Linked DNA regions of Homo sapiens: region 2 is linked to region 1. The links come from fine-mapping of genetic effects on gene expression. A gene starts in region 1. The other region holds a variant in brackets. All regions are shown on one strand. Distances are between the middles of the regions. Region 1 holds the start of SUPT3H (SPT3 homolog, SAGA and STAGA complex component). Region 2 overlaps SUPT3H (SPT3 homolog, SAGA and STAGA complex component).

Region 1 (15,965 bases):
AGGCTGAGGCAAGAGAATCGCTTGAACCTGGGAGGCGGAGGTTGCAGTGAGCCGAGATTGTTCCATTGCACTCCAGCCTGGGCAAAAAGAGTGAAACTCCGTCTCAAAAAAAAAAAAAAAAGCACTAATAAGCTGCTGGGTGGGCAGTAAGCCCTCAAAGACTGGAGCCTGCTGGAATCTAAGAAAAGAAAAAACTACTTAATATTAAAAACAAATAAGAATTTGTGGGTGAGGAAGAGCAGAGGACTGAGTAGAAAGAAGAAAAAGGGGCACTGTGGAGAAGCACGATATTGTGGCAGGAGTGCTTTTTCACCAAGGCTGGAGTGCAGTGGTGCGATCTTCGCTCAACACAACCTCCACCTCCCAGCTTCAAGAGATTCTCCTGCTTCAGTCTACTGAGTAGCTGGGATTACAGGCATGCACAACCATGCCCAGCTGATTTCTGTATTTTTAGTACAGACGGGGTTTCACCATATTGACTAGGCTGGTCTTGAACACCTGACCTCAAGCGATCCACCCACCTTGGCCTCCCAAAGTGCTGGGATTATAGGTTTGAGCCACCACACCTGGCCTGCTTTTAAGAATAGAAATTTACAGTACTTTTAAGTTGTGTTTCTGTGATGTTGTGATGTTAACTCCCTTTCATCATTTCACAACCTTAGTAAATCTGCTGTGCCCACACAGAGCTTTGTGAAAATGCTTTTGGGTGAAACCTAGGAACAGGGATAAGTTCCACATCTGAGTGGATGTTTGTGGAATAAGGACAGATGGCAGCTCATCCATGAACCTCACTAGTTTACCGTAAGGGGAAGTTCAGAGCCAAAGCGGTTCAGTGAGAACATCAGCTCCCCAGAAATAAGAAAAAAACTTGGGTTGGGCATTGGACTTGCAAATGAGGTGGAATGGAGGTTCAAACCAATCCTAACCGAGAGGTTAAAACCCAGGGAGATCTCAGCTGACACCCAGGTTACATATTATCATAGTACCTTTGCTCTTCCTTGTTTATATACCTTTGTCTCTCCTAAATTCACCAGTAAGAAGTCTTTTTGAGAGCAGAGACTCTGTTATTCATCTTATATTCCCAATGTCTAACAATGACAAATAGTGTACTTACTACGTCCTCAGTAAATGTCTGTTAAAAGAATAATTGTCAAATTTACATAAGTTTACTGAATTAAGAAAAAATAGGCTGGGCATAGTGGCTCATGCCTGTAGTCCCAGCAGTTTGGATGCTGAGGCAGGAAGATGACGTGAGGCCAGGGGTTTGAGATCAGCTTGGGCAACATAGTGAGACCCCATCTCCATAAAATTTTTTTAAAAAATTAACAGGGTATGGTGGTGTGCATCTGTAGCATCAGGTGGGAGGACTGCTTGAGCCCCGAAGTTTGAAGTTACAGTGAGCTATGATTGTGCCACTGCACTCCAGTCTGGGAGATAGAGTGAGACCCGGTCTTTAAAAAAAAAAAAAAAAAAAAAAAAAAAAGACACCCTAATGTCTAATACTTGAGATAAGATTTTGTGTTTAATAGTACTATGTCTAACACATTAAAAATATAAACATTATAAAATTACTCAATAACTAATTATAATAAAAACTAGAAAACTGGCCAGGCACAGTGGCTCACACCTGTAATCCCAGCACTTTGGGAGGCCAAGGTGGGAGGATCACTTGAGGCCAGGAGTTCAAGACCAGCCTTGCCAACATAACAAAATGCTGTCTCTACAAAAAATACAAAAATTAGCTGGGCGTGGTGGTGCATGCCCGTAGTCCCAGCTACTCAGGAGGCTGAGACATAAGAATAGCTTGAACACCGGAGGTAGAGGTTGCAGTGAGCTGAGATCATGCCACTGCACTCAGCCCAGGCAATGGAGTGAAACTCTGTCTAAAAAACAAAGAAACAAACAAACAAACAAAAAAAACCCCAACCACTCCCCCCACCCCTGGAAAACAATAATAACTACAAATTATTAAATATTTTCAATGTGTCAGGAACTTCCCATTTAAATCTGATATCAACCTTCCTACATTAAGTATTCCTATCCTTATTTTACAGTGGAGGACACTTATTTTCAGTTGAATAACTTGCCCAGCATTATGGCTAAAGTGACACCAAAGCCTTTATTTTTTACACTATACCTGACTGAGTTAAAGAAATGGTTTTAAACATATTCTGGAAAGAGGAAAATACAGCTTATGCTGCATCTGTAAAAAGCTAAAAATAAAAACAAAGTAACCTGGTGAAACCTGTTGGTACAGTTCCCTGATTACTATTAACAAATGATCTGAGCATTACTTAGTCAAAATAGGTTTGTTGCATCCACCTTCAGAATGTGAAGTAGGAATAACAGGTTGCCTTAGCCACACTGTAGTTTATTTTATATGACACCAAATAACTTTTGGTCCTGTTTCCACATGTAATAGAAAAAGAAGGCAGTTATTTGAATAATTTACTGAAATAGATTCAGTTTCAATGAAAATACTTTGGAGAACTGGATGTTTCTGTATACTCGTCTTAACTTTATTCTCTACTTTCATGGATTAATAGACCAAAAAATATTTTTCTTTTTCTTTTTTTTTAAACAAGGGGATGTTTAGCTTTTCTCAAACTTTCTTAAAGGTATTCCTTGACATATATTAGATAGGTCTAAATGGAACTTTATTACATGAGCAAGATTAGAAATTAATTTAATTATTATAGAATGTTACAAATTCAAAGTTCTCATTTCCTTAAGAACTTATTTATTTATTTACTGAGACAGGGTCTTGCTTTGTTGTCCAGGCTGGAGTGCGGTGGCGCTATCTTGGCTCACTGCAACCTCTGCCTCCTGGGTCCAAGCGATTCTCCTGCCTCAGCCTCTCAAGTAGCTGGGATTACAGTCATGTGCCACCCCACCTGGCTAATTTTTTGTGTGTTTTTTTTGTAGAGATGAGGTTTCGTTATGTTGGCCAGGCTGGTCTTGAACCGGCCTCAAATGATCCACCTGCCTTGGCCTCCCAAAGTGCTGGAATTATAGGTTTGAGTCACCGTGCCCGGCCCAGAACTTATTTATTTTTGATGGCAAAACATTAAAGATAATACAAACATCATGCTTAATTATGTACTTATTCCCCAAACTGCATTCCTGATCTCTTGCACCTGCCCAGCATACTCCAACCCCAATCTTCCCCATCTCAGCTAATGTAGGCAAATCAATTTTTCCAGTTGCTCTGAACAAAATTGTTCATCCTTCATTCCTCTCTTTCTCTAGAACCCTAAATCCAATGTGTCAACAAATCATATTGGTTTTCAAAATATACCCAGAACCCAACCATGTCTTAAGCCCTCTACTGTAACAACCCTAGTACAAGCTACCATCATCTTTTGCCTGGGTTACTGCAATAGGACCTGTCACTCTACAGACTATTTTCAACCTGGCAGCCAAGGTAACCAATTTAAAGCCTAAATCTTACGATGTCAATCTTCTGCCAATAGCCTCTCAGTGTCAGGCACACAAGGCCTTTCACCATCTGGCCTAGTGCTTCTCTGACCTCATATCACATGATTTTCTTTCTGGGTTACTCTTCTTTAGCTACAGTGGCCTCCTGGCAGTTGCTTCAACTTACCAGACCTGTCCCCACCCTACGGTTTGCACAAGTTGTTCTCATAGTCTGGAATGCTCTTTCTTCAGATATGTGCAGGTATCTCCTTCACTTTCAAGTCATTCTTCAAATACTACTTTCTCAGTGAGGCCTGCTTCAACTGCCCAATTTAAAAATGACATCTTCCCCATTTCTCCTGTGCTTGGTCTCCTTCCACATCCCTTCCTGTATAAACTTTTTTGATAACACTCATGACCTTCTAACATACTATATAATTTAGGTATTTATTTTAGGCATTTATTTTTATTGTCTAACTTCTGCATGTGAGTTTGATGATGGCATATGTTTTTGTCTGTTTTGTTCACTGCTCTATCTGCAGCTTCGAGAATAGTGTCAGGTACATGGTAGGCCTACAACAATCCGTTGAAATGTAGAAGTTGTTTGATTCCAGTACAAGAGTTTTACATATTGGATTCCATGGGAACGGGAACAACTAAGTTTTCATGTGCCTGAAGAGCTCAAAGGCTCTTTGAAACTCTGGTATTCCATGGTTCCCTTACCATTCTGACTCTCAAAAACATAATCATTTTTTCAGCAGCCAAGCACTACTTTTAAAAGACACTGGACTGTGAAATCTACAATGATAGGTCCCTAAGAGGATGATCATGATTACAATTCTACAAGCTACCTGGTACTGTAAAATTTTTTAACATTTCTTTTCTAATCATTGTACTGCTTTTCCTTATGAATGCAATTGGAAGGTAGGGGAAGCCAATTTGATTACACCTTAATAATTTTGTGGCACCCCAACCCCCTGCAGTGCATCAGCATATTTGATACATCTTTTCACGCTGGTTTTTCTTTTGAAATGTGTAACATCAGGCAGGGCATGGCAGCTCACTCCTGTAATCCCAGCACTTTGGGAGGCTGAGGCAGGAGGATCTCTTAAGCCTAGGAGTTTGAGACCAGCCTGGGCAACCTAGGGAGATCCCCATCTATACACAAAATTTAAAAATTAGCTGAGTGTAGTGGCACATGCCTGTAGTCCCAGCTACTGAGGAGGCTGAGGTGGAAGGATTGCTTGAGCCCAGAAGGTTGATGCTACAGTAAGCTATGACTGCATGACTTCACTCCAGCCTGGGCAACAGAGAGGGAAACCCTGTCTCAAAAGAAAAAAAAAAGAAAAGCCCTGAATACTTTTGTAATTTTTGTAGCACAAATGCTGAAATTATTCTGCACAACTTTAGTATCCATCCTTTGGCTATTCCCATTTTGAAGGAACATAGAATTTTAGGGCTGTAAGGTTTTAGTTCATTTGGTTCTATCATCTCATTCCACAGATACAAAAACTGGGGTGCAATGATGTTAAGTGACTTGCTCAGGTACTACCGGGCTGAGTAATCTTTTTGGTCAGAACAACTTGCTCTAAACATAAAACAAGATACTTTTGAGAATGCAATTGGAAAACAGTTCTCAACGTCAGAAAACAAATATAGCAACAATTGCAATATACGGTTCTAAACAATATGCAATCTACCCAGTTTATTTCCATGGTGACAACTTAAGCATTAAAAATAGAAGGCAAATATAGCAAAGGATGAAATAATTGATAAATAGAAAATAAAAAGTCCCCACAAACATCCTAGCAAGTAAGAGTTATGAATCTCAAACAACAAAGAATTTCCAAGTCACCTGAACTGTCACTGTAGCATCCACATGAGAAGAAACCACTTCTGGCCGGGTGCGGTGGCTGACACCTGTAATCCCAGCACTTTGGGAGGCCGAGGCAGGCAGATCACAAGGTCAGGAGTTTGAGACCAGCCTGACCAACATGGTGAAACCCCGTCTCTATTAAAAATACAAAAATTACCCGGGCGTGGTGGCACACGCCTGTAATCCCAGCTACTCAGGAGGCTGAGGCAGAAGAATCGCTTGAATTGGGGAAGAGGAAGTTGCAGTGAGCCGAGATCGGGCCACTGCACTCCAGCCTGGGTGACAGAGCGAGACTCTGTCTCAAAAAATAATAATAAAAAGAAACCACTTCCATGGAATCAGAGAGATGGTTCCATATTAGCCATGACTTCTGCTGCTCTTTTGAGAATGTGGGCTTACTACCTAATCATTTTAAGATGCCCATGGGCACTTTTACTTAGATACATGCACTTTCTCTTTGCACTAGTGAGTCTACGTGAATATTACATGCCAGAGGAACGTTAAAGTCTACGCTAACAATGCTTCATTTTTCTTTAACAATTTTGTCCAGGTCATGGAGACATTTTTGTGGAGTGATAAATTAACTTGGTCTCCTGATGTGTTTTCCCCACATGCCTTGGAAAATCACTTGTTTTTCTGAGAGGTGGTAGTCATCAAAGCCTTAACTTCAGCAACAGCTTCGCTGTTTTAGCTTTGTTATAATTAAGATACCCTAGTACCATTGATAGTTTAGGATATTTGATATGAATGTAATGCAAAAATATTTTTGGCCCTTTGTATATAGCAATGGTCTCAAACTATGAGCAAAATTATGGCTAAATCAGATTTTCAAAAATGGATTTTAAGAAATTCCAGGAGGTAGGAACCTGGTTAACTCATGTGACTTTAAAAATCAGATCTCTGCCAACAGCCCAATTCAGTTTCCTAAGAATAAATTTTTAAACTTCCTGTATCAATGCCTTAACTCAGTTTCCCTTCTCCATGTGTCACTCTCATTAACTTTTGTTGTGCGTGATTTTTTTTTTTCTTTTTTTGACGGAGTCTAGTTCTGTTGCCAGGCTGGAGAGCAGCGGCGTGATCTCGGCTCCCTGCAACCTCCGCCTCCCAGGTTCAAGCGATTCTCCTGCCTCAGCCTCCCGAGTAGCTGGGACTACAGGCACGTGCCACCACGCCCGGATACTTTTTTGTATTTTTAGTAGAGACGGGGTTTCATCATGTTGGCCAGGATGGTTTCGATCTCCTGACCTTGTGATCTGCCCGTCTCGGCCTCCCAAAGTGCTGGGATTACAGGCGTGAGCCACCGCGCCTGGCCTGTGTGTGATTTTATGCAGGCTGGACACCAGTATCCTAGAATAAGATGATCTGGATTCTATCCTGATAAACTGGATCAAACAGGTACTCATCTGATGCAGGTGAAACTCCAGTGCAGGAACTTCTATGATAACATTAACTGAACATAATTTTAATTGAAATGATCTACTTTTATGTTTCTTTAGATGTGAACATTAATTTTTCTCTTAATCTTCTGTTAACTAATTTCTTGGTAATGTACTCAAAAGAGCTTTCAACCAGTCTTCCCATGTAAGAAGTTATCACCATACTCACTCTGTTACTTTCCCTTATACTGCACACTTTGCTCAGCAATGAATTGATCCCTGATTTACACATCAAGCTGAGCTCTCACATCCTAAATATATCTATTCTTTTGGAATTTTAGGTATTTGGCAAATATTGAAGCGTTGGGGAGATTAAAGAGAATCAAACACAACACTAGCAGACTCAACTACAATCCACAGAGGAAATAACCAAATAAGTTGCTATTTTAAACAATTTAAGCAAATAGAAGGAAGGGATTTCAGAACTCACAGTATCTATAGGCAAGAAAATAACTGAAGCAGTGATGCTTAAAAAGACTTGGTGAGGGTTAATACTTGAATCCCTATAAAATACAGTATTTTATAGTATTTGACAACACAGGTGTGAAGGTGAGCATGGATAACCAGTTTTCTTCTCTAAGCAGGCAATAAGAATGTTAAATATAAATAAGACTTCATATAATATAAAGAGTGAAAGACTGAAAGCATTGTCTTACGACTACTGTATTATTTAAAGAACTACATCTATATCAATTAAATGTGGCAGGACAGAATGTACAGTACAATACTGGGGGTGCAAGATTTTAAAATGAGGAACAGGCCAAAATCTAAACACAGAATCGTCCAAAAAAAAAAAAAAGCCTTCAAGTAGAAAAAGTTTTCAATAACAAAACATGGTAGTTAAACGCCTGCGTCTAGTAACATGAGTTGGGGAAAAAACATTAATAGCAGATTAATGAAACAGATTCTGTGCGAGGTCAGGGTAGGGAGTGATGGCGCGCGGAAGCGGCGTAAGAGCTGGTTTCGCCGTCCCAGAAAGGGTTCCACATCCACACGCCTGTACTGCGGCCCTGCGGGGAGCGTTCAGACCCCTCCGTTTCCCTTCACCATTGTAAACGCGCAATCCCATTAAGATCCCGTTCACTCCAATTCCTGGAAAGAAGCTTAGAACGGTGAATCTCTTCCTCGGAGTTGAAAATCAACTTCCAGTGCCGGTCACCCAATCCTTCAAAAATCCTAGCCCTCTCGGGCCCAATTCCTAAAGAATTCAAGCCTGCACCCTGTACACCCTGACCGATCTCAGCTCGTCCCCACTCCGCTCCCAGCGTCCCCAGCTCTAAACGCCGCCGCGTGGCTCAGCGCTGCCCAAGCCGGGCCCTGAAGGCCGCGCACAACGCCCCGCCCCCGGCGAGCGTGGCGGAAGTAGCTCGCTCGGGCTGGGAGAGCGCGCGCCACCTGGCCAAGCGCGCATGCGCCCGCACTGCCAGTGCGGGGGGCGTCCGTATCGCTTACTCCTCAGTCTCCGCAACCCCCGCCCCACCGAGAGTCGGGCTCACGCCATCTTGTACCCCCCCCATCGCCCCGTCACACAGCCGAGTCACCTTTTCCCTTTCTACACTCCACACTCTCAGTCCCCCACCCCGCCCCTTTCCAAGCGTGTCCCGGGCCGCAGCAGCAGAAACCGCACCATCTCCACCCCCACATTCTCCTCGCGGGAAGCGCAGCAGTGCCTCCAAGGGTTCTTAAAGCAGAGGTTGTAGGGCTTGCGGGGGGCGGTGCGGGGATTCGGGCGGGGGAGACGTCAGAGAGCCGGGAGGGACGCAGAGCGGAGATCCCAGCGTCGCTGGGCCCCCGCGCCGGCCACGCCCTGGCCCCGGCTCGAGGGCGGCTGCCTGGGTCTTCGTGGTCTACGCCGGAGTGTTGAAGGGAGGGCGGCTGTGGGAGGCGCTGGCCGGGCGCAGCGCCCTGGTTCCGCTGCCGAGCGTGGAGTTGCCTCTCGACTCCTCCCTTTTGGCGGGTGGGCGTGGGGTGAGGGGGGCTGGGCTGTGCTGAGAAGCGGGGTGCGCGGGTCGTCTAGGTAGTGTGGGGGCTGCCGGAGGAATCATTAAAGAGGGAAATTGTTGCTTTATGGCACGGCGAGAGAAGAGTTAGGTAGTTAGTGGGAGTGTAGCATCCAGAAAGAGGAAAAGATCCGCTGTGTTCTCTGTGGGGTGAGCTCACGTCTGTGACCCCTGGGGAAATTATTTAGCTTGTCTTTGCCTTGTTTTGGTCTGTAAAATGGCGATCTTATAGCCTATTTCAGAATTGTGAGGATTATATGAGAAAATACACGTTAAACGCTTAGAACAGCGCCAGGTGCTGCTCAGTACATATTAGCTCTGCTTTTGCTCTCCACGTTTTAGGAGTTCAGAATGACTGTGACCTTATTTTCTCAGAGAATCAGGACACTTGGTCTCACACGTGAGAGTGAAGTTATGAAGACAGTGATATGTAATATTTGACACTCAGACGATCCTGGACGTAGTATTACTGTACACGTGGATAAATTAGCATTTCTCCAAGAGGCTAATAGAAATGTTAAGTTATTTCGGTAGAAAGAAATGTGTGTGTATATATATGTATATACATATGTGTGTATATAAGTATATGTATGTGTATATATGTATGTATGTATTTGGAAGGAGAGGACCTGGGGTCTTAGTATATGTGAAGGGCAGACTCTGGAAGAGGAATTAAATTCGCCCTGCAAAGATTTACTTGAAGGACAAAACTTGGGGAATTTCTGGTGAATGTTTCAAAGAGGCTGAATTTGCCTATGAGAAACAGTTCGTGAGAGTACTTTGCAAGAATGGAATGCTCTTCATTGTGCTATGGAAAGTTTCTTATCTCAGGATATTCGGGACGTTGGAGCGAAGTATGCCTAAGTCTAGGGCTGCACTTTTCACTAGCAGTTTCTGCCTTGATGGAGATGTTCCATAATCTGTGCCTTTAGGCACTAGTGGTAGCCTAGGCACAGTGGCTCTTCAGCACTTGAAATGTGATAAGTGTCACTGAGGAACTTAATTTTTAATTTTATTCATAAATTAATAAATTGATTTACGTTTAAATACCCACATGTGGCTAGTGGTAGCTACTGCATTGGACAGCACAGGGCTACAATTTAGATTTTGAGAGTCCTTCCGAGTCTTGATATGGTTGAGTTTTAAATCAGATAAGCCAGCTCTTTGGAACATTTATTGCCATAGGGAATTGTAATTATATTCAAATAATGCCTTTCATTCAAATACTGCAGTTCAGACCATGGGTCTGTTAGTACTTATTTACATCTTGACAAATTAAAGCAAAACGTTGTCTCCTAGGTTGTACAGCTAATGCCAGATTCAGAGAGCTATGACAGTATTAACTGGAGTTTTCTTTAAACATTATTGTACTATTTTGTGATTGTCGGTTTCTGCTATCTTTTACCACTTTGGTTGGTTTTTCAGTGAGAAGTTTCCAGCTCTTATTCAAGTTTTTTTCTTTTTTAACCTTTTGTGTAATAAAGCGATTTGAAAAATTGTAACTCTTGAGCATTAGGACATTTTAGAACTAGTTTTATGGTTATCCAAATCTTTTGGAGAGATAAGTGAAATTAGGTAATAGATGTTTCACAAAATTACTTTACTTGAAATATGTGCATCTGTTTTTTTTTTTTAAAGCAAGTGTATATAAAGTCAAATTTGAAAATAAAACTAAAAGAACAAATAAAAAACCTTTATAGGTAGCGGTAGCACCCTTAACCTTGGCCTGATGTCTGTAAAATGGTGCCCTTGGGCCAGGCACGTTGGCTCATGCTTGTAATCCCAGCACTTTGGGAGGCTGAGGCCAGAGGATCTCTTGAACCTAGGAGTTCAAGGCTGCAGTGAATCATGGTCAGGCCAGGCTTCCAGCCTGGGCTGCAGAGGGAGACCTTGTCTCTTTAAAAAAAAAAATGATGCTCTTGGTCTTAAGGCTGAAGATAATTGTTAGATCTGGAGCAATAACTTAAAGCTCACGAGTTAAATCAGATGGAGAGAATAGCTCATAATATACAAATCAGAATGGGGTGCTTTTATGGGTGACTATAGTATCTTAATTTTTCTGAGACAGTCGTAGTATAAAGCCTGATTGTTCCAGCACAATTATTTTATTTAATAGAACCCCTTTCACTATCAAAATGTTCGAATTGGGACCACATCATAATGTCACCCTACTGTTAGCCTTGTTGGGACTTGTAATATATAGTTTTAGGATGATTAACCACATTGCAATATCAGAAATACTTTATTATTTTTGAGATGGAGTTTCACTCTTGTTGCCCAGATTGGAGTACAATGGTGCGATCTCAGCTCACTGCAACCTCCCCCTCCTGGGTTCAAGCGATTCTCCTGCCTCAGCCTCCCGAGTAGCTGGGATTACAGGCACATGCCAGCATGCCTGGCTAATTTTTGTATTTTTTGTAGAGACAGAGTTTCACTATGTTGGCCAGGCTGGTTTTGAACTCTTGATCTCAAGTGCTCCACCCGCCTCAGCCTCCCAAAGTTCTGGGATTACAGGTGTGAGCCACCGTGCCCGGCCAGAAATATACTTTAAAACAGTGACAAAATTACTGTTTTTGTGTCTAAATAATAAATAAGATACCTGGAATAAGGCCAGCAAGTGACTTTCCCATTTAAGCCACTGATAATTTTAAAATTTTGCTTTGAATATAAACCTTTAGCAGCTTGAGTTTTGGTTCCCTCTGGAAGAAAATCATCTTTTGGTGGGGGTGACTGCATGGTAGTCTATGTCAGTCAAATCAGGTGATTGAGTATTTGTGTTGAAATAACACTGATTTTATTTTATGGTGAGGTTGAATAGTGAAATCCGTCAGAAATCTGATTATGTATTAGAATGTTAAAGAAGGGTTTTGCTTACAGTTTACTTAATGAAAAATAATTCAGCCATATGCATTATTATATTAAGTTTATACTGAAGTGGGTAAAATATTTTATTGAGGCTCTAACACTTGATTTGAGTTCTCGCTCTGCTGCTTCCTAACCATGTGATTTGGGACAAATTATTTAATCTTCCTAAGAATACTGGGTTCCTCATTTATAAAATGAAGATGGTAATGGCATCTGCTTCTAGGTTCATAAGAGGTTAATTTAAATAACTCATGTGATGGGTTGTGTGCAGTTCAGTAACTGTTAGCTGCTGTAGCCTTAAGTTTATTGGATAATCTAGAAGTGATAATAATGTTCTGAGATGTTATGTGGGTTGGTGAACAGAGCACTAAGACCCAATTCTGTAAACCTAGCTTTTGCCCTTTTCTGGCACATTCTTTTGTCATTTCAGTTAAGGTATTTAACTTATTAATATCAGAGCCTCAATTTCCTTATCAGTAAAATGGAATTAGTACCCATCCTCATCCCGCTTTCTCATAGGACTGTTGGTGGCATCAAATGAGAATTACATTTAAAAATTATCGTCTTACTTTACAAACATTTTTATATTGAATTGGTTTTGTCTCATCTTGTCTACCTTCAGCCTCCACTAAAGAGTGACCTGCAAAAATTGTTGTGTAAATTTTGTGTAACAGCATGGATAGTGTATAATAGGCACTATTACTGAAGACAGTTCTCTTTTACAAATAATATTGTAAGTCACAGGCTGGGTGTGGTGGCTCACACCTGTAATCCCAGCACTTTGGGAGGCTGAGATGGGTGGATCACTTGATGTCAGGAGTTGGAGACCAGACTGGCCAACATGGCGAAACCCCGTCTCTACTAAAATTACAAAAAAATTAGCCGGGCATGGTGGTGCATGCCTGTAGTCCCAGGTACTCAGGAGGCTGAGGCAGGAGAATCGCTTGAACCCGGGAGGCGGAGGTTGCAGTGAGCCGAGATCGTGCACTGCACTCCAGCCTGGGCGACAGAGCAATACTCTGTCTCAAAAACCACACACACACACACACAAATAATATTTTAAGTCACAGTAATGGTGCTTTTTTGATCTGGTCACAATATATTTTCTACGGAAAACAACCCCATACTACTGCTAAGGGAGAACCAACATTTTCTTGGGCACTTGATGTGTTCCTTCCGTTGTATCTCATTTATCCAAACATATTCCCACCTAATAGGTTATACTAATGAGGCTCTTACTTTCTAGAATTGGTCTGTGAGGCTTTTTTGTACTGTAGTTCTCCCTCTGAAAATACCTGGCCCATAGTTAATGGGTAGTGAAGGTTAAATAAGATAATGAACATGAAAATCGTGGCCGGCTCTGTGACTTCATGCCTGTAATACCAGCACTTTGGGAGGCCAAGACAGGCCCGGGTTGCTTGAGCCTAAGAGTGATGGGCAATATAGTGAGACCTGGTCTCTAGAAAAAATTTAAAACAAAAATTAGCTGGGCCGGGTGCGGTGACTCACAACTGTAATCCCAGCACTTTGGGAGGCCGAGGCAGGTGGATCGCCTGAGGTCAGGAGTTTGAGACCAGCCTGGCCAACATGGTGAAACTCTGTCTACTAAAAATACAAAAATTAGCCGCGTGTCTTGGCGTGCACCTGCTACTTGGGAGGCTGAGACATCAGAATCGCTTGAACCCTGGAGGCGGAGGTTGCAGTGAGCCAAGATTGTGCCATTACACTACAGCCTGGGTGACAGAGCAAAACTCCATCTCAAAAAAAAATGTAGCTGAGCTTGGTGGTTTGTGCCTGTAGTACCAACTGCTTGGGAGGCTGAGGTGGGAGGATTGCTTGAGCCCAGGAGGTGGAGATTGCACTGAGCTGAGATTGTGCCACTGTACTCCATCCTGAGCAACAGAGAGAGACCCTGTCTCAAAAAGAAAATAGTACTCTGTTTGGTGTATGGTATGTAGGAGTTACTGAAAAGATGCTGTTGAATTCACAGGACAGTAAATTGAAACAATTTATGTGAATATACTTTATAAACTAAAATAACATACAAATATAAATCATTAAAAAATCTTGAAATGTACTTTTGCTGATTTAAATGCTATAGTGGTTTTATGACTGAATTCTGTATATTTCACTTTATTCATATTAGTCTTTAAAGGTCTACTCTTAGTCATAACATTCTTTGAGAATATACATGTTTAACAGTAATCTTTTGTGATATATTTTCAAGAAGCTATGCTTTTGCATGAGTTAATCATCATCATCAGCATGAACTAAATGCCTTATATGTACAAGGCGGTTTACTAAGGGCTTTACGTATGTTATTTTATGTAACCTATAAGAGAAGTAATTTTAATCTCCATTTTAGAGATGAGGGAACTGAGGCAGTGAGGTGGCATAACTTGCCCAAGGTCATGTGTAAGTGTTAGAGCCTATAATTTAACTCCAGAGCCTAGCTCTTTACTGCTTCCATTGTGGTTTGGCATAGTCAGATATTAATATTTCACAACACAGTTCACTGTGACATACACATTGTGGAGGCCTTTTGGGTTAGTTATGATAAACTTTTATTTGTATATTCTTTGATGTATAGTAGAAAGAACTCTGGACCAGGTGTCGGGGGACCTCAGTTTTAGTCCCAGCTTGTATCACTAAATAGTAGTGTGTCCTTGGGCAGTTCAAGAAACCCCTCTGGACTTCAGTTCCTCACCTGAAAAATGAGGGATTTGGAGGAAATTAGTGATTTTCAAACTGTAGTTCTGAAGTCTGCTCAGATGTCTTTGGTTCCCTCCCACCAATTTGCATATATGTTTGTCTGTTATAGTTGCTTATCCATCTACCTAAGATTTTCTTTTAAACAAAGAATTTCTTAACTGAGTGTTTAAAGTCATCAGTCTCCAAGATAACTTAATGACCATGTAAGTCCCCTGACTGCTATGTTTACAACTTTTCAGTTAATTTCACAATATTTTAGTGTTTTAGGAGATAGAGATCTTTTACTAATGAAAAAACTAAAGCACTAAAATGAGAGGATTGTTATTAAAACATAGTATATCTAAATGGCCTGAATATTTCAGGTTATCTGCTATCTGGGATCAAAGCCTGTTGTTTATTGGATTTGTGACCTTCAGCCAGTCTTAGTTTCCTCATTGGTAGAGGGAGAATACTTGTCTTGTAGGGTAATTGTGAAAAAAAAAAAAAAAAGTGAGCTAATACTGGTGAAGTACCCTTTATAAACTCCAAATTCCTCTATTTTTTACATGCCTACAGTAAATCCCCCAGTCCTTTTTCTTTTTGGTCACATAAACTGTTTTTAAACACATCAGATATTTTGTAAATTGTTTATGTTTAATGCAGAATTCTCATAAGCTTTAATATTTCTGAAATGTGACTCTAGACTGGAAGAGAGTTTTGATTTTTAAGGGAGCTGCTTATTTTTTTGACATGTTTGTCAAATACACTTACCTCTTACTGTTAGGAGTATAATTGCTGCCAAAATCTTCCACATATCTCAAAAGTTAACCATTAAGTAACTCTTTAATTAAGTTTGTGTAAGAACAACAGTGTTTTAATGTTGGAAAAGTAAGTGTGCTATGTGCCATTTGTCAGGGCTTAAGGATAATCTGATAGGCACATTTGCAGTGCACCTTAGGGACTGTTTTTGCAAAGAAATTTTTTTTTTAAACTCAATTTTTCTGTGAGAGTACTGGATATGAAAGCATATGGAATAGAAACTTAATGTGAGACTAAAGAAGGAGGATATGCTAGAAACTCCTGTGTCTCGGAGCAGTCTATCACTGGGCTCCTATGTCTGTTCAAAAAGATGCTCAGGTAGGATATGTAATGCTGCACAGTTTTAGCTGTTTATCATCCAGAGAGAAAGGATGGGGGTAGTTTTCATGTTTACAGGGTGTTTTGATATTTTCAATTCAGATTTTTTTTAGTGCCCATTATATGGATTCCTGTGAGATAAATTATTCCTGACAGAGAAACTGAACTTATGAGATTAGTTGATCCTTATATCCTTATACAAAGTTCTATTATATTGATTAATTATCCTTAACAAAAATCTTGTGACCATGGCTTTTATTTCAGTTTTCTGCTTTACAACATCTCTCACAAAGCTTCTGCAGCTTTTTAAAATCTCCACTTGAATGTCTAATAGTTGTCTCAAACTTAACATAGGCCCAACTGAACTGTTTTTTTTTTCCTTCCCAGTCTTCTGGATCTCAGTAAATGGCACCACCATTCAACCAGTTTCTAAGGCTCCAGAATTCGGTCATCCTTGACTGCGCTTCTCTCACACCCCACGTGTAATCCATCAGCAAATCAGTTCTGCTTTCAAAATGTATTCCAGAAATCTGACCACTTCTC
Region 2 (15,965 bases), 260 kb after region 1:
GGGCATCCAGGTGACATTGAAATGCACAAATCTGAGTTCAGAGACATGCAGAAGCTTGTTGGTTCATATTTTAAGAGATCATGTTTGGGTCTCAGAAAATTTGGGCAACATTCTATGTGAATCTCCTTTTTCAAAACTTCTGAAAAAAAATGGATGGGATACGAATAACTGAAAATGGAAACTTTTAGTGTAAAGAGTAATACAATTTTGGACTTTCTTTTATTGGAAGTCTTTTAAAACCAGAAAGATTTTTTTTTTTTTGGTAATAGTTTAAGGTCAATAGTTCTTTATATTTTTAATGCAGTATTTCAAACACATACTATTGTGTTCAGTTACCTGAAAAATAAATCACTGCTAGAAATGAGAGTTTACTGAAGCCATAATCTGATCCAGGTTTTGCTGAAGCCCACCTCAAAATTTGTAGGACACAGAGCAAGAGTGTAAGTGGAGACCCATGTACCATATTATCATCATAACTATCCCTGAAATCACAAATCAAAACAGGAAGAGATGCAAGAAAGTGGATACGTTGCACTATTGAAAATGGTACTTTAGAATGCAAGAATCTTTTGCATCCATACTCTATGAGAGGAAGATTTAAGACCCCATGCATTTCTACCACTTAATTTTCCCCATTCCACAGTAGTGTGCATTTGCCATCAATAGTAATACAACCCAAAAACCAAACAAAATTTGGTTCAAAGTATTGTAGAAAAAAAATGTTTGGTAGTCATATCATGCATAGAAAGTCAATTTAATTTTAACATGACAATTATAATTCATGGTTTATTTTGGACTTAAAATTTTGTTCATTAAATGATGACATGTTATTTGATTACTATAGTGATAGAATTACAAAGTGAAAAACACGCCTAATACGTTGATAAGTTTGTGTATTTGTTTCCTAGGGCTTCTATAACAAAGTACCAAAAACTGGGTGACTTAAAGCAACAGAAACTTACTGCCCATAGTTGAGGTTGTTAGACATCCACAATCAAGTGTCTTGTTCTCTGAAGGCTCTAGAGGAGAATCCTTCCTTGTCTCTCCTAGCTTTACGTGTTTGCCAGCAATCCTTGGTGTTTCGTGGCTTTTAGATTCATCACTCCAGTCACATTACTGTCTTCTTCCTCCGTCTTCATATTGCCTTCCCTCTGTGTGTGTCTGTCTCTGTGCAAATTTCCACTTTTTGTAAGGATACCAGTCCTATTCGTCTAGAGCCTACCCTAATGACCTTGTTTTAACTTCATTATCTCTGTAAAGACCCTATTTCTAAATAAGGTCATATTCTGAGGTACTAGGGGTTAGGATTTTTATACATTGTTTTTGGAAGGACACAATTCAACCTATAACAGTTTTTTTATTATTATTTTAAACATGAATATTCAATATTTTAAAAATTGGTAAGCTGTACAGTTTAAAAATAGTATAATTTTTCTTTCTTTTTTTTTTTTTGAGATGGAGTCTCTGTTAGCCTGGAGTGCAGTGCTGCAATCTCAGCTTGCTGCAACCTCCGCGTCCCGGGTTCAAGGGATTCTCCTGCCTCAGCCTTCCAAGCAGCTGGGATTACAGGCATGCACCACCATGCCCAGCTAATTTTTGTATTTTTAGTAGAGGGGGGGGTTTCACCATATTGGCCAGGCTGGTCTTGAACGCCTGACCTCAAGTAATTCACCTGCCTCGGCCTCCCAAAGTGCTGGGATTACAGGCCTGAGCCCACTGTGCTCAGCCAGTACAATTTTTCAACTGTACTTTTACAATTTAAATAAGAACATGAAGTTGATTGCTTGTTTTCCATATATTTTGACAAATTAGTGTTTTTTTTTAACAGTGGAACAGTTTTCTTGCAGTTACTAAATAATATAATAGCTACAGTAAATGAGTTATCATCATCCTTACATTAACTCAAGCTCTTACTCAAATACTTCTTTAAAAGAAGTTCTTGATTATTTGAATATATTTTCCTTTCTCTCCTCTCTGAACAGTGGCAATTATGGTCAGCTACTAGTCACTCTTAATTCATATTATTTGATACTGGTGTTTGATTATACCAGGGATTGGCAAACTGTGGCTTGAAGGCGAAATCAACATAGCTCCCTGTTTTTGTTCAGCAGCCTGTGTAACCACGAATATTTTTTACATTTTTAAATGGTTGGGGAAAAAAACAAAAGATGAGTAGTATTTCATGAGATGTAGCACTTACATGAGATGAAATTATGTGAGATGCAGAATTCAGATTGCAGTGACCATTCATAAGTTTTAGTGCAGCATAGCTATACACATTCATTCATCTATGGACTGTCATTGGTGACTTTGGTATTGTGATGGCCATTGTGCAAAAGAGACCTTATAGCCCACAAAGTTGAAGATATTTACTGTCTGACCTTTTCCAGAAAATATTTGCTGACCCTTGGATTACACCTATAGTTTTTTCCCCAACCTGTTACACTTCACCACACAGGTTAAAATAGATTATATATATATAATCTTTGTTTTATTTTTTGTAATAGTACAAATTTTTAATTGTACTTTAAAAAAATTGTACAATTTAGTGGCTGAGTGCAGTGGCTCACAGCTATAATCCCAGCACTATGGGAGGCCTAGGTGGGAGGATCACTTGAGACCAGAGGGTGGAGGCTTCAGTGAGCCATGATCACACCACTGCACTCCAGTCTGGGTGACAAAGCGAGACCCTATCTGGGGAAAAAAAAAAAAAAGAAATAAATGATACAATTTAAAATTCACACTTAAAAAAATTGATGATTTTTGTATTGTCATAGTAGAATTTTAATTAAATTAGACTGACTGAAAGAGAGTTTCATGTGTGCTTATTTGTATCTCATTTACCAGTGTGGTATGTACTAATTTTGGAGTTCACAAGGACTTGGTGTTTACATTTGCATTCCTCAGCCTTCAGGAGAGGACTTTCATCTTGGTTGATGTTCAGTGAATATTGTTAAAGTGAATTAAGTTTATATGTAAATTAAGATGGTTATGTATATATGTGGTAGAATTTTAAATCAGAAAACCCAATAAAGAAAATAGGACTATATTTATTTAGTATTCCACTTAAGTGTCAGCTTTTGGACCTAGCTTCCATTAAGTAATAGGGTATTAGAATATTTACCTGTTGTAAAGAAATTTACCCCAGGTTCTCAAACATGTTAATGATGAAGCTGAAAATAGAACATGTAGACTCTAAATGTCCACCTTTCATTTTCAGTGTACAATCCAAAATGAAAGAGTCTAGCAATTTGTGGATGATTATTCTTGTTCATGGGGTCTGCAAGCACAGTTTTCAGTATGATATAAACTTAGAAAATAGACATGAAGTGCCTCTCGTTTAATTTGATATATCTTCTAATATGAATTCTCTTCAACAATACTCCCAAAATTTTTTTTTAATTAGAAACAAAATGTCATGGAAGTAGGAGCAATTCTGTCTTCTATTTTTGGTGTTTTAATGGTGTATATGGTGATTTATCCTTAAAGGTTAACTTTGTTATGAAGTCATTGGAATAAAGTTAGTTACCAAAATAAAATTAATGATGGTGGGTTTAGTATTCTTTCAAAGTCTGTTGTTTTGTTTTGCTAGCAAATAGCTTAAAGAGACATTTTAAACATCAATATTTTATTTAAAAACCTTTTTTCTTAATCCTTAGGTACTGTGAAATTATTCCTAAGTTTTTGAGAAAGTGTATTAGGGTTTTATTAGGGTTTTAACTATATAAAGTATGTGTGATTTTAAGAAAATTTAAGTAGTTATACTGAATTGAATCAATATTTTTTTGTTATGGATTATTCTTATAACATGTACTAAAAGTGCTACAGACAGCCTTGTTACTTTTCCACTCCCTTGCCAAACCCTTGCTCCCAACCCCAACCCCATATCTGGAATAGATTATTGTAGGCTCTAGCATTTTACAGCGTAATAAAGGTGACACCTGTGTGAAAATATAGTTATGGTAAATAGATTAATTTTGCATTTTCTTTTTTAAAGTTAATATATGTAGAAAATACAATTTGTTCATTTTTAATTTTTCTTTTTTTTTTGTTTTTAAATGAAAGATATCTTTCACTTAACTTTCTTTACTCAGAGTTTTAAAGAACACATCTGGCTAGGTGCGGTGGCTCACGCCTGTAATCCCAGCACTTTGGGAGGCTGAGGCGGGTGGATCATGAGGTCAGGAGTTTGAGACCAGCCTGGCCAACATGGTGAAACCCCGTCTCTACTAAAAAAACACAAAAATTAGCTGGGCGTGGTGGCGGGTGCCTGTAATCCCAGCTACTCAGGAGACTGAGGCAGGAGAATTGTTTGAAGCTGGGAGGCGGAGATTGCAGTGAGCCAAGATCACGCCACCGCACTCCAGCCTAGGCAACAAGAGCGAATCTTCGTCTCAAAAACAAAAACAAAAACAAAAAAACCCAAAAAAAATCTATAAGTAGAAATGAGTTATGTGAGTTTAGTGAAGAATTGAATACTGCATTATGAACAGGTTAATTTAAAATGTTAAATATTGTTTTGAGTCATTCAACTGTGAAAGATATACTTAGATAATCCACCCCCCCCCCCACATAATTTCATAGGGTTTTGAAATCTTTGGAATGTGGGGGAAAGGGAAACTCCTGCAACTGAGAAAACCCAGATTTAGTAATCTAATATTCTAATTCCTTGTCAATACTCAGGAAGTCAAATTGTTTACATTTGTTTGAATCCTGGAAACCTCTGGTCCCCAGGACATACAGAGCATCACAATTTCCTTCTTTCCTCTCAGAGTTGCCCAAGCATTCTCTCTCTAGAAAAAAATGGGACGTTCTCCAAGGGCTTTGAGATAGGAAATTTGTTCACCATAAGAGAAGCTCTAATTTTTACTCCTATAGGATCTAGAGGTTATGGAAATCAGAGATCCTGGTTGTGGAGAGTTTCTGGGCCAAGATTTTTGTGGAATTTTTCTGTTTATCAAACTCTCTGGAAACAGTATATGAATGGTATTGGTGTCTTTATGCTGCAAGGAATATTTCCCTCTGAATATAATAATAATTACATACCTAGATAATCAACCTGTTCCAAAGTATCAATTTTAATCTCTGTGTAATATTTGTATTATAATCTATTAATAGTATGATGAAGTTAACCTATACTTATTATTGTTCTAATATTATTGTTCTAATATTGTTCAAATTTTAGCCTTGGGAAATTTTTGCATTGTTTAGTACAATTATTCCTGAACTTTATCTCAGAACCTGAGAAATTTCTATGTGATTTATGCATAAAGACACTATGGAGTTCCCCAGGTTTGTAGCTTTAATATTTACCCTTAATTCTTGAAACCTAAAAGCAAGATAAATTTCATGTGGCAAACAGCTATTTGCATGAATAGAGGAAGCCAGTTATTTGCTTTTGACTTGGAAGAATTTGTTCAGCCTTTTAATAGATTCCTTTTTTTGGTTATTGATATAGACATCATTTGTTGTTCAACTTCTTTAGTTTTCCTCTTAATCTTCTGAATTCAACTATTGTGGCATTTATATATTGGTTTGCATTTCTGCATGTACCACACTGGTTGTCAAAAAGTTATTTCCAATTTTATCAAAGTATCATCATCATCCTACTCCAGTCACCCTAACTTGGATATATGCTTATATAGTCTTTTTTTTTTTTTTTTTTTTTTTTAGACAAGGTCTCACACTGTTACCCAGACTGGATTTAAACTCTTGTGCTCAAGTGACCCTCCCTCCTCGACCTCCCAAAATCCTGGGATTATAAACAGAAGCCACCATGCCTAGCCTATATAGTCTTTTCACTTTTAAAATTTTCTTTATTGTGGTGGAAACTGAAATAAATTACTTCCGAAGTCTCTTCAGTTTCTATGAAAGACAATATTATAGAGCAGTTAGAGGGTTTTTGTTTGTTTGTTTTTTGTTTTTTTTAGTTTGCAGTCAGACTGATGGGATTTGGAATCTCGTTTCTGCCACTTATTAACTATGTTACTTGGGTAATTTAGTTAACCTCTTCAAGTCTTGAAGTAGCAATAGTAATAGTACTTACCTTTTAGAGTCATTTTGACATTTGAATCAGTTCAGTGGTGTCTAGCAAACAGTAAATCCTCAGTATGTATTATGGATATAATCGACTCATTGTCATTTTGTCATAACTATCATTATTAAACAGATTCTAAATTGTATATATTTTCAGACTCATTTTTTTCCTTTTCTTTTTTAAAAGTATTTGCTGCCTTTAAAAAAAATAAATCATTAATCTGGTTCCTTTTTGAATATTTTTTACTTGGCCCCAAATGCATACCAAGTTTAATGAAATTTCAAACATTTTTCCTTCTACATGTGAAAATCTTAAGTTTTCTAGGAATACACCCTTTGATTCTCTGCCCTGGCATCTTTTACTGCATAACCTAATTCCACTCTTTATTTGGTCCAAAGTGCTGCAATTATTGACTCTTTCCTGTTAACATTATGCCCACAAATCACATGAATTTGTGGCCATCTGTGCTCATCCAACAGGCAGCTATATACATATAATAAGCATATATTAAAGCCTATATGCTTAAGGTTTTAATCTGCTCTAACAGTATCTAGTTTGTGTGCCCACTGAACTTTCACAACATAGGGAAGGCTCCTTGTGGTCTGAGATAATAGTGGAATCAGTTGGGAGGTGAATCCGTCCTCATACCTTCTCTTCCCTAGACATACATTGAGTGCCCACATACAACTGGCATCTTCTTAGGTGCTCAGAATACAAATTTAAATAACAGGTGATTATTTTCCTCTAAATGCATAGGGGAGAATAGAGACAAATTAGTTCATGTAAAAGTATGACTATGTAACTACATAACTATACAACTATGTAACTATACTATGAGGAGGTTGTGAAGAGTGCTATGGAAGCATCTAGGAGTGGGATTTGTTATTTATTGCCACAATAATGCTGCATAACAAAACATTGTGAAACCTCAGCATTTATGATTATATGTCTATGACAGTAGATTAGACAACCCCACCAATCTCAGCTGTGCTCTGTTATCTATCTGAGGGTCAGCTGACTGCCAGCTGATCTATGATAACTCAACTACGATAACTGGGGTGACTGAGCTCTGCTTCATGTATCTCTAATTTTCCAGCAGATTAGCCTTGTCATACTTTCATGGCAGTGGCAGAGTGCAAGAGTGCAAGTTGAAATGCTTAAGCACTTCTTAGCCTCTGCTGCTAATAATATCCCATTGGCCAAAGAACATAACAGGGTTGAGCTCAGGGTTATAGTGCAGGGCTACTTAAAGTTACTTGGCAATGGGAATGAATATAATATGAGGTGAAAGGTGAGTTAGGGCAATCAGTGCAATATGCCTTAGAGCAGCAAATGAGTATTATGGAAAATTTCCCAAGGGTCGTACCCCTCGAACTAAGTTTGGAAGGCATTGGCTGAATGGAAGAAGAAACAAAGACTTA[T/C]TTGACAGAGAAAATATCATGTACAAAAGTGAGAAGACCTGAAACCTATTGTGTGGTCAGCTGTCCATAGGGAGTTTGATATTTTAGGAACAAATGGTGCATGGCTAGAAATAAGGGTGGAACCAGAGAGAAGCCAGATGTCAAAGACTTTTATATAATAAACAGAGGAGTTTGAAAGTTGTAGGATTCTGTGAAGGCTCTAAGCTAGGGTCTTAATTACTGTTTTATTGATATTAACTATTATAAATAATTAATTGCCTGGTATTGCCTATTAATATTTTTATTTGCTACCACAGAGCTTGTACCTATGAAGATCTTAATCGTGTACAGGGTGGTAGTAGGTAGATACAGAGATGTATGTTTTCACTAATATTTTCAGTATACTTAAAGACTTTATATGTTCATTGTAAGCTTCTACAAGTACATACTGATCTTTTCATAGTAAAATTTAAAGGTTAATATGAGTTTCAGTGTTAATAGTGTATATAAATATCTATAAAGGGTTATTATTTATGCATGCCAAATTTTTAAGTTATAGACTTTATACTAAAGTAAAAGATCATTTAATGTATGCTATGTGTTTATTCTCAGTAGAGTTGTGTCTTAATGTCTTTCTCATGTCATCACTTTTTTATCCATGTTCTAGAGAACAAACTGAAAACACATTTCTTCTGGGCATACTAAATTTCATTTTTATTTGAGGAATACAGTATTGTTGAGACTAGAGATGAACTTTTTCTTAATGTTCTTAAAAGTGACTGATCACTATAAGACAATTGTCTTATATACTTCCTGATTCAAGCGAAAGCCCTTTGTGAAGAAACTAATGGAATATATTATGTAGTACAACTGGAATATATTATGTGTTCTCCTACTGGCAGTCACAGATATTTACACAATTAATTTTCAAGTTGCATTATTTCCATATTTTTTAATTTATAGTTTTATTCATATTCTGAGAGCAAAGCCATTGTTTTTGGTGACAAATTAGATTATGTACAATAGTGGTATTAATTATTGCCAGGTGGTTTTTCTAGAATGCTTTGTAAGGAAGTGTAATAAAGTTGTAATTTTGGCATGAGTTTGCTTCATTTTTTAAAATGTTGGGTGAAGGAGATTCTAGTCATTATACCCTGATGAACTTGACATCAATCTCAAGAAAAATTTTGGAATCTATAATTATTAGGAACTTGCATGAGCTCACAATTGATATCAGTATAAAATAATTTTACTTTCATTAAGGTAATGTCACAGTTTTAGAGTAAAAATTTAAATGAGATGTTTGATGTCATCTGTGCTGATGTTCTGCTGGATGAGATGGAGAGTTATATTTCAGACAAAGACAGCTTGAAACCTGGATCAACTCTTCCCAGCCCACAAAGTGTTGATTATTGGATCTGTTGTTTCAAGGATATCTCTTTGCTACAGGGCTTTATAATTGGCCTATGACTTGTTCAACACTTAGAGGTTTGCATTCCTTTGGTTTGTTTACTAAAAGTTTTATAACTTTTTTTTTAATGAAAACTTGGGTAGGACCTAAATATATAAATCAAATAAATGCCAAACTACTCTGATTCAAGTGAGAATTGAAAGTGGTAGTAGTTTTGGAAAGTCTTTTCAAAGATATGCTATTTACATTGAGACCAAAATGATAAGAAATAGGAAGTCTTTAACCTTGAAGAAGCCTAGAGAGGATGTATGGTTTCTTCAAGTAGATTAGTGGTTGTCTTTGGCTGAGGATGGGAAATAGGACTGACTGTAAATGGGCATGAGACATTGTTTTGGAATGATGGAAATGTTCTGAAACTAGATTGTGGTGATGATGGTAAAACCCTGTAAATTTACTAAAAGTTATTGAATTGTACACTTTTAAACAACTGGATTTTATGGTATGTAAATGATATCTCAATAAAGCTGTTTAAAACAGATGCTGTTTAGCAAAAACAAAACAAAACCAGACCTTTAAAGTAAGCTTTCTTCATACTTTTGAAGACCTGTCATGTAAAAGGATTTGTCATTTCATCAGTTCCAGGGGACAAAGCTAATCCCAGCATATGGAAATTAATTTTTAAAAACCCAGAATTTCACTTACTGGAACAAATATCTCTCCAAGATGCAGAGGGACAGGCATAGTGATAGTGTGTTGCAGGGTCTTTAAGAGGTTTAAATGACATATATAAATATACCTGGCACTTAATACATGCTTACTGTTTAAAGAAAAATTAATACAGATAAAGATACAAGTGTATGTGTGTATAATTTTTAAGAGAGAGAGAGAAACGTGCGCAGTTGTGCTAAAATGTTAATAATTGGTGATTCTAGGTGAAGGATTTACAGGTGTTCATTCCACTGTTATTTCAGCTTTTCTGTTGGTTAGGAATCTTTCAAAATAAAATGTGAGAAGAAGGAGAGGAAGGGAGGCTAGGCTGACTAGTTTGTGAGGGCAAACTTCCTTAAATGCTGTGAAAAATAACGAGCCTGTCATTCAGTATCTGAAATAAAAACAGAAAACTTGATTTATTTCTTCTTATCATAAAGGAGAGATACATGCCGGTCAAGCACAGTTTGTTAGCAAGGAAGGCTGCTGATCTTTTGGGTTTTCAGGAAGCATTGAGTTCAGGGATTGGTCGTGTTCTGGAGTTGACATAATCTATAATAAGAGAGATGAGAATGTTGTTGATTGGTTGGCACTCAAGGGTGTGTTTACTGGAATGAGTCTGTTCCTGGTTCTGGTGGCTGTTTATTGCCATGGCTACAGAAAATCAGTCATGTCTTTAAGTTTGTGGGAACTTTGAAAATTCTCAGCTAGTATAATATTCAGTGCCTGACATGATGTAGACCCAGTATTCAATAAATATTCGTTGAATGTAAGTGCATTTTTAAAAAGCTCACAATGTTTGCCATTATCACCACCATCATCATGTCATTGTTAGAAACTGAAGAACTTGGCTTTGGAGTTCTAAAATCTTAGGTTGCATTTTATTTGGAATCCTCTCACTAAAGTCCTTAAGTTATTTTGGAAGTTGTTTTGTTTGTTTGTTTAAATCAGTGTTTCCTAATTTTTTTTCAATGCTATGTAACTCCATGGGCTTAGAAAAGGATTATATACACAGTAAATACGTTTAAAATCAAGAGTTTCTTTTCTTCAGAACCTCTCAGAGTGTTTAGTATGGTAACATGTATTGCAAATCTAGAAAAGAATAAAATATGTCATTTTCCAAGCTCATTTAACTACAAAATACTTTTTCTTCTGGACACTGTCAATCTGAAAAATGTTGTTGCAGTATGCCATATTTATATCCATTTTATATTGATAATTTTCTAAAGATCTGATGGTACAAAATTCTCTTATCTCTGTGACTATCTCATACCAAGTAATCTTGACGCTTACTGTTGCTGACTCCCCGGGTAAATGTCTTAACTTTCTTGACTCTCTCTGATTCCATGTTTATGTAACATGGGAGAAACTTTCCTGTTTGCATGCTTTACAGTTTGCTTTAAATGATAGGTGAGAAAAGTCCTCTATGACTATGAGGTGTTATTGTGATTACAGTGTATCTGTTTTCAATGTTATAGGAAGTTAGTTTTTTGACTAAATTTCAGTCAATCTAAGATAGTAAAGTCCATTAAATGTTTTGGAGGCTTAATAGATGTTCATTTAGCGTGTTGTTGTACAATGAGTTCTGGATGAGGTAAAAGTCCTAGTTTTACTTCTAACTGGACTTATGACCTTGAGATGGCTATTTAACCTCTTGGGCTTTCATTTTTCATCTGTTTAAAACTGAATGAAAGGACTACGTAATCTTTTAGATTATTTTTTGACCTAACATTCAATGATTGCTATATAGATCTTTCCTGTTCCTCAAATAGGGACGGTTTATAATAATTTGCTTTATGCTGCTATCTATTAAGAGTTTGAAGATGGGAATATTTGCTTCTTAGAAATGTAGGATATATGAGGAAAAATGCCCTGTAAATTGTTAGAAGAAATTCATAAAGATATTCTGCTAGTTTTGTAAACTTTCTCAGATGCACATTTTCATGCACTGTAGATGAGTTTTATTTTATGAGCTTTCTTATAAATATTTATGGATGAGCTTTCTTATGTAAATCTTGATTTTTAAAAAAATTTTCTGATTTATATATTTTTTCTATTTAAAGCTATTTCTTTCACACATCAGATCTTAATAAATACATGTTTTAATATTTCACACTGCCCATTGCATACATTTCGTGATTCTGTTCTAAGTTTTTTTCTCTCATCTTTCTAACATACAAATTATTTATTTAGTAATTCATTAGTTATATTGTTTATTGTCCTTTCCTCATCGGAATGTAAACTTGACTCATTTTTTTGTCTGTTTTGTTCACTGATATGTTCCAAGGAACCAGAACAGTGCCTGGCACATACCAGGCAATCAGTCAATATTTGTTGATTGAGTGATTAATACTTGTAGGTATTATGTGTTTACCTTTTCAAAATTTTATACTGTTTTATCTTTTATTTTAAACATATATGTATATTAGTATATTTGTATTTTTTTACGTCAGCATTATTTATTTTATATCATAAATAATTTAATTTTGCTTTTTATATATCTTCACATATTTATATTTATTTCATGGTGTTTTGTAAAATTCTAAAAGTTTTCTCAAAGTTCAGTTAAATTATATGAATGTTTACTATCAGAAGGGGAATGGGGAAATGGTTGTTGAGAAATCAAGCAAGCAATGAGAAAAATCATCACTGCTAGGAAATCTGTTGTCTTAGATGTTTATTTGATTTTTTTTTTTTTTTTTTTTGATGGAGTCTTGCTCTGTCGCCCAGGCTGGAGTGCAATGGCTCAATCTCGGCTCACCGCAACCTCTGCCTCCCAGGCTCAGGCGACTCTCCTGCCTCAACCTCCCAAGTAGCTGGGGTTACAGGCATGCGCCACCATGCCATGCCTAGCTAATTTTGTATTTTTAGTAGAGATGGGGTTTCACCATGTTGGCCAGTCTGGTCTGGAACTCCTGACCTCAGGTGATCTACCCACCTTGGCCTCCCAAAGTGCTGGGGTTGAGCCACCACGCCCAGCCTTATTTGATATTTTGATTTACCTATCACTTGGGGTTTCTTAGAGCTATTGTTAATAAAATTCATTTCTTCCTTTGAAAACAGGTGGGTAAAATCATAGATTTGTGAAAGAGCTGTTAAAATTTGAAGAGCAAGGCTAATTTGTAGTGTTTATAACTTTCCAATTGCATTAAATGACTGATCACGGCCAAACTTCTGCACTTTTATTCCCCACTTTGGATAGTGGACAAATCAGTGTCAACAGATATTGGGTAAGAATGACATAAACAACAGTATGATGTCTGTGTTCACATACATCATCTAGTACTAGTTTAGCTGACTAAAGTGTATGGTAGGGCTGTAGCCTGGTATTCACTCTAATTCCATTTAGGAGAAATTCTTGGGTATTATAGTAATACCTAGTCTATAAAAGTGTAATCAAAAAATGCTTTGAACGGAAAAAAAAAAAACCTTTCTTTTGGGGACAGCAAGTTACCCAGAGCCTTCTTAAACCAAGCAATAGTCACACAGTGTCCATTCTAAAGTAATGTCAATTACCTGGGGTAGGAAAACATCCAAAAAAACCAGAACTAATTAAAAAAAAAAAAAAAAGTGACTAGCTCCCAAGACCACAGCAATTACTTAACCAGAGTATCCAGAATGATTTAACCACATTAGAGTCTGTAGCCAGTGGGAAGTATTGAAAGCAACTCAGCATCCAAGAAGATGTACACATGGCAGTAAAGAAACATCTCTTTATCCTTTCTTTATGTTTGGTTTCTAGATGCTTTATGAGTAGATCTGCTTGTAGGCCTTGTATGCTTGGTGACTGGCCCAGCAGGCTGTCCACAGATCATCACCAAACTTATCCCCTTTGCTTCTTTTTCAGAATCTCTTTAATTAAAACTTAATCAGCCCTTCCCCTCTGTTAGAAACTTAATCAGCACTTCCCCTCTAAATCAGCCCTTCTCCTCTGTTAGAAACTTAATCAGTCCTTCCCCTCTGTTAGAAACTTAATCAGTCCTTCCCCTCTATTCTTAATCAGGGCTTGGAAATTTAAAAACAAGTATTTTAGACTCAAAGTTAGGCCTGTTAAATTCTTTTAATTGAAAAAGAATAATGTAAAATTCCGTGATAATATGTTCAACACCCCCCACCTTTTTTTTTAAATTTAAGGAACAATGACATGTTTCTTAGAAATTATTTCCACATATAAGGCCAGGGATAAACTATAGCTTTCTTTTCCTTCCTCTAATTATTTTTATTTATTTATTTCGTTCTGTTACTCATTTTTAACATGTTTTTCTTTTTCTTAATTTCATGATTTTCCCACAGTTTACTCTGTGCAATTTGATTTTCTCATAACAGTGTTGCCCCATTCTTGAAGACAGTCTTTAAGATTTACGAATTATAGTTGAATCAGATATATTTGATTCAAAATAAAGTTTCTGAAAAGGTTTCTTTAAAATTATCTAATCTAGTCCCCTCCTTTTACTGCTGAGAAACTGAGGTGCCAGGAGAAGTTACCTGCTCATTGCAGTACTTCTTAATAGCATAGTGGGAACTAGAACCAGATCCTCTAACTTCCAGGATATTTTCATGGTTACTGACTTTTCCTACTTTGTAGCTGACGGCCAGAATATAGTATGACTTCTAGCAGCATTATTGTAATCTTTTTAGTTGGATACAAGCCCTGTGAACTTCATCCATTTTTCTGAGCTCAAATCTCTGGCTGGTCATTTAGTTTGGTGCTATTTCTTTCCCTGAGTGGGGGTGGGGGGGCCGTGACTACAGTGAGATGTCAGCTGGGCACCTACTCATCCACTGACTCTCATGAACTTCATCCTCAACATCAGAGAATAGAAAAGCATTATCTTCAGATGAAGGAATAAATTTCCCATATGCTATTTGTTTCTGTTTTGAGACTTTAGAACTGAAATAATAAGGGTAATTGTTTGAAAGGAAAAATACAAGTTTTATTTATTGTTAATTCATTCCCTTAACAAATGAAACTGTTTTCTTGCTTGTTTTTTTTGCGGGGGGGAGGGAGGGGGGAATGTATGCCATGACCTTCTAGTACTAATTAGACTGATTTACTTGGTAGGGAACACTTTGGAAAACCCCTCAATCCCAGGCAAACTAGGGTGATTGGTCATGCTGATAACAATAATGTATATATGTTAGTGAATGCAAAAAGATTTTCTAACACCAATAAATAAAATATATTTTTAAAAATACCATTTTGGCTGGGGGCAGTGGATCAAGCCTATAATCATAGCACTTTGGGAGGCTGAGGTGGGCAGATCACGAGGTCAGGAGTTCGAGACCAGCCTGGCCAACATGGTGAAACCCTGTCTCTACTAAAAATACAAAAACTAGCTGGGCATGGTGGCGGGCGCCTGTAATCCCAGCTACTCAGGAGGCTGAGGCAGGACAGTTGCTTGAAGCCGGGAGGTGGAGGTTGCAGTGAGCGAAGGTCGCGCCACTGCACTCCAGCCTGGGTGACAGAGTGAGACTCTGTCTCAAAAAAAAAAAAAAAAAGTATCGTTTGTTTTATTTCTTACCTCCTTTGATATTTCTCTTTTGTGTTTATTTTATGCTGTTTTGTTATTATATTAATTTGTATAACTTGAAAAGAAATACACACACACATATGTACACACATTACATATACTTTCTCAAAAAGTATTTATTTTCCCCTTACAGTTTATGCCATTAAAAGAGTTTGGAGTTGACTGCCTTTCACAGCTGGGGATATGTAGATGTGAGGAGAATAGGTCAATTGATACATCATCAAATACATGCATTTACATAGGGTCCAGAGGTTAGCAAAAGATTTTAGCAAATGAAATGATGCTTTAGAATTTATAGAGAGATTAAAAGAGTATTGCTATATTTGGGTAGCATCTTGGCATAGATTACTAACCAAAGATGTCACATGTGGATTCAACATAAGATAGTAAAGCTCCTTCATTTTTAAGAAATCTTTCTCCTTTTTTTTTTTTAAAAAAAGCTGATGTTAGAAAGCACTGAAAAGGGGTTCTGTTGTTTTTTGAGAGCAAAATGACTAGACGTTTATTGTATATTTTAATAGATGTCTATTTGAAGGATCTCCCCTAATTTTAGATAGTATTGGGCTATACATAGCGCAAAAATGTTAAAAGTGTTAGTCATAAATTCTGCTGTCTTTTTAAAACAGTATCCAATGGTTTTGTTCAGCATTCATCCTCCTGGATCCCAGTATAAGTATACAGAATAAAAAGTTTAACTTCATCTCATGAATGCCCTTGTTTGTTTCATACTTTCACTGTGCACCTGTCAAGCGGATTGCAGAGTCAGTTGCCCTAGGTTGAAGTGAGACATTTCATCCCAGGATTGAATAAAGCCAATACTGTTTGCATGAGAAGATAGGGTGTAAGTTGCTCCGCCCCAATCATTATTAAGTTGCTCT

The links. PIP is the estimated chance that this variant, and not a neighbour inherited with it, causes the effect.
Region 2: its variant is fine-mapped to the expression of SUPT3H in whole blood (INTERVAL, PIP 0.92).

The regions. Positions count from the first base shown.
Region 1 is chr6:45,370,225-45,386,189 of GRCh38, reverse strand. SUPT3H (SPT3 homolog, SAGA and STAGA complex component) reads left to right here and starts at 8,256. Exons shown (of 11, transcript NM_003599.4): 1 at 8,256-8,422. All of the region lies in intron 2 of RUNX2 (RUNX family transcription factor 2), which reads right to left. RefSeq lists silencers at 7,965-8,014, 8,335-8,614 and an enhancer at 7,781-8,324.
Region 2 is chr6:45,110,124-45,126,088 of GRCh38, reverse strand. The region is part of intron 2 of SUPT3H (SPT3 homolog, SAGA and STAGA complex component); the gene reads left to right. Among named protein-coding and RNA genes, the nearest start is that of MIR586, 80 kb to the left of the region's middle. The variant T/C (reference allele first, on the strand shown) is at 7,459.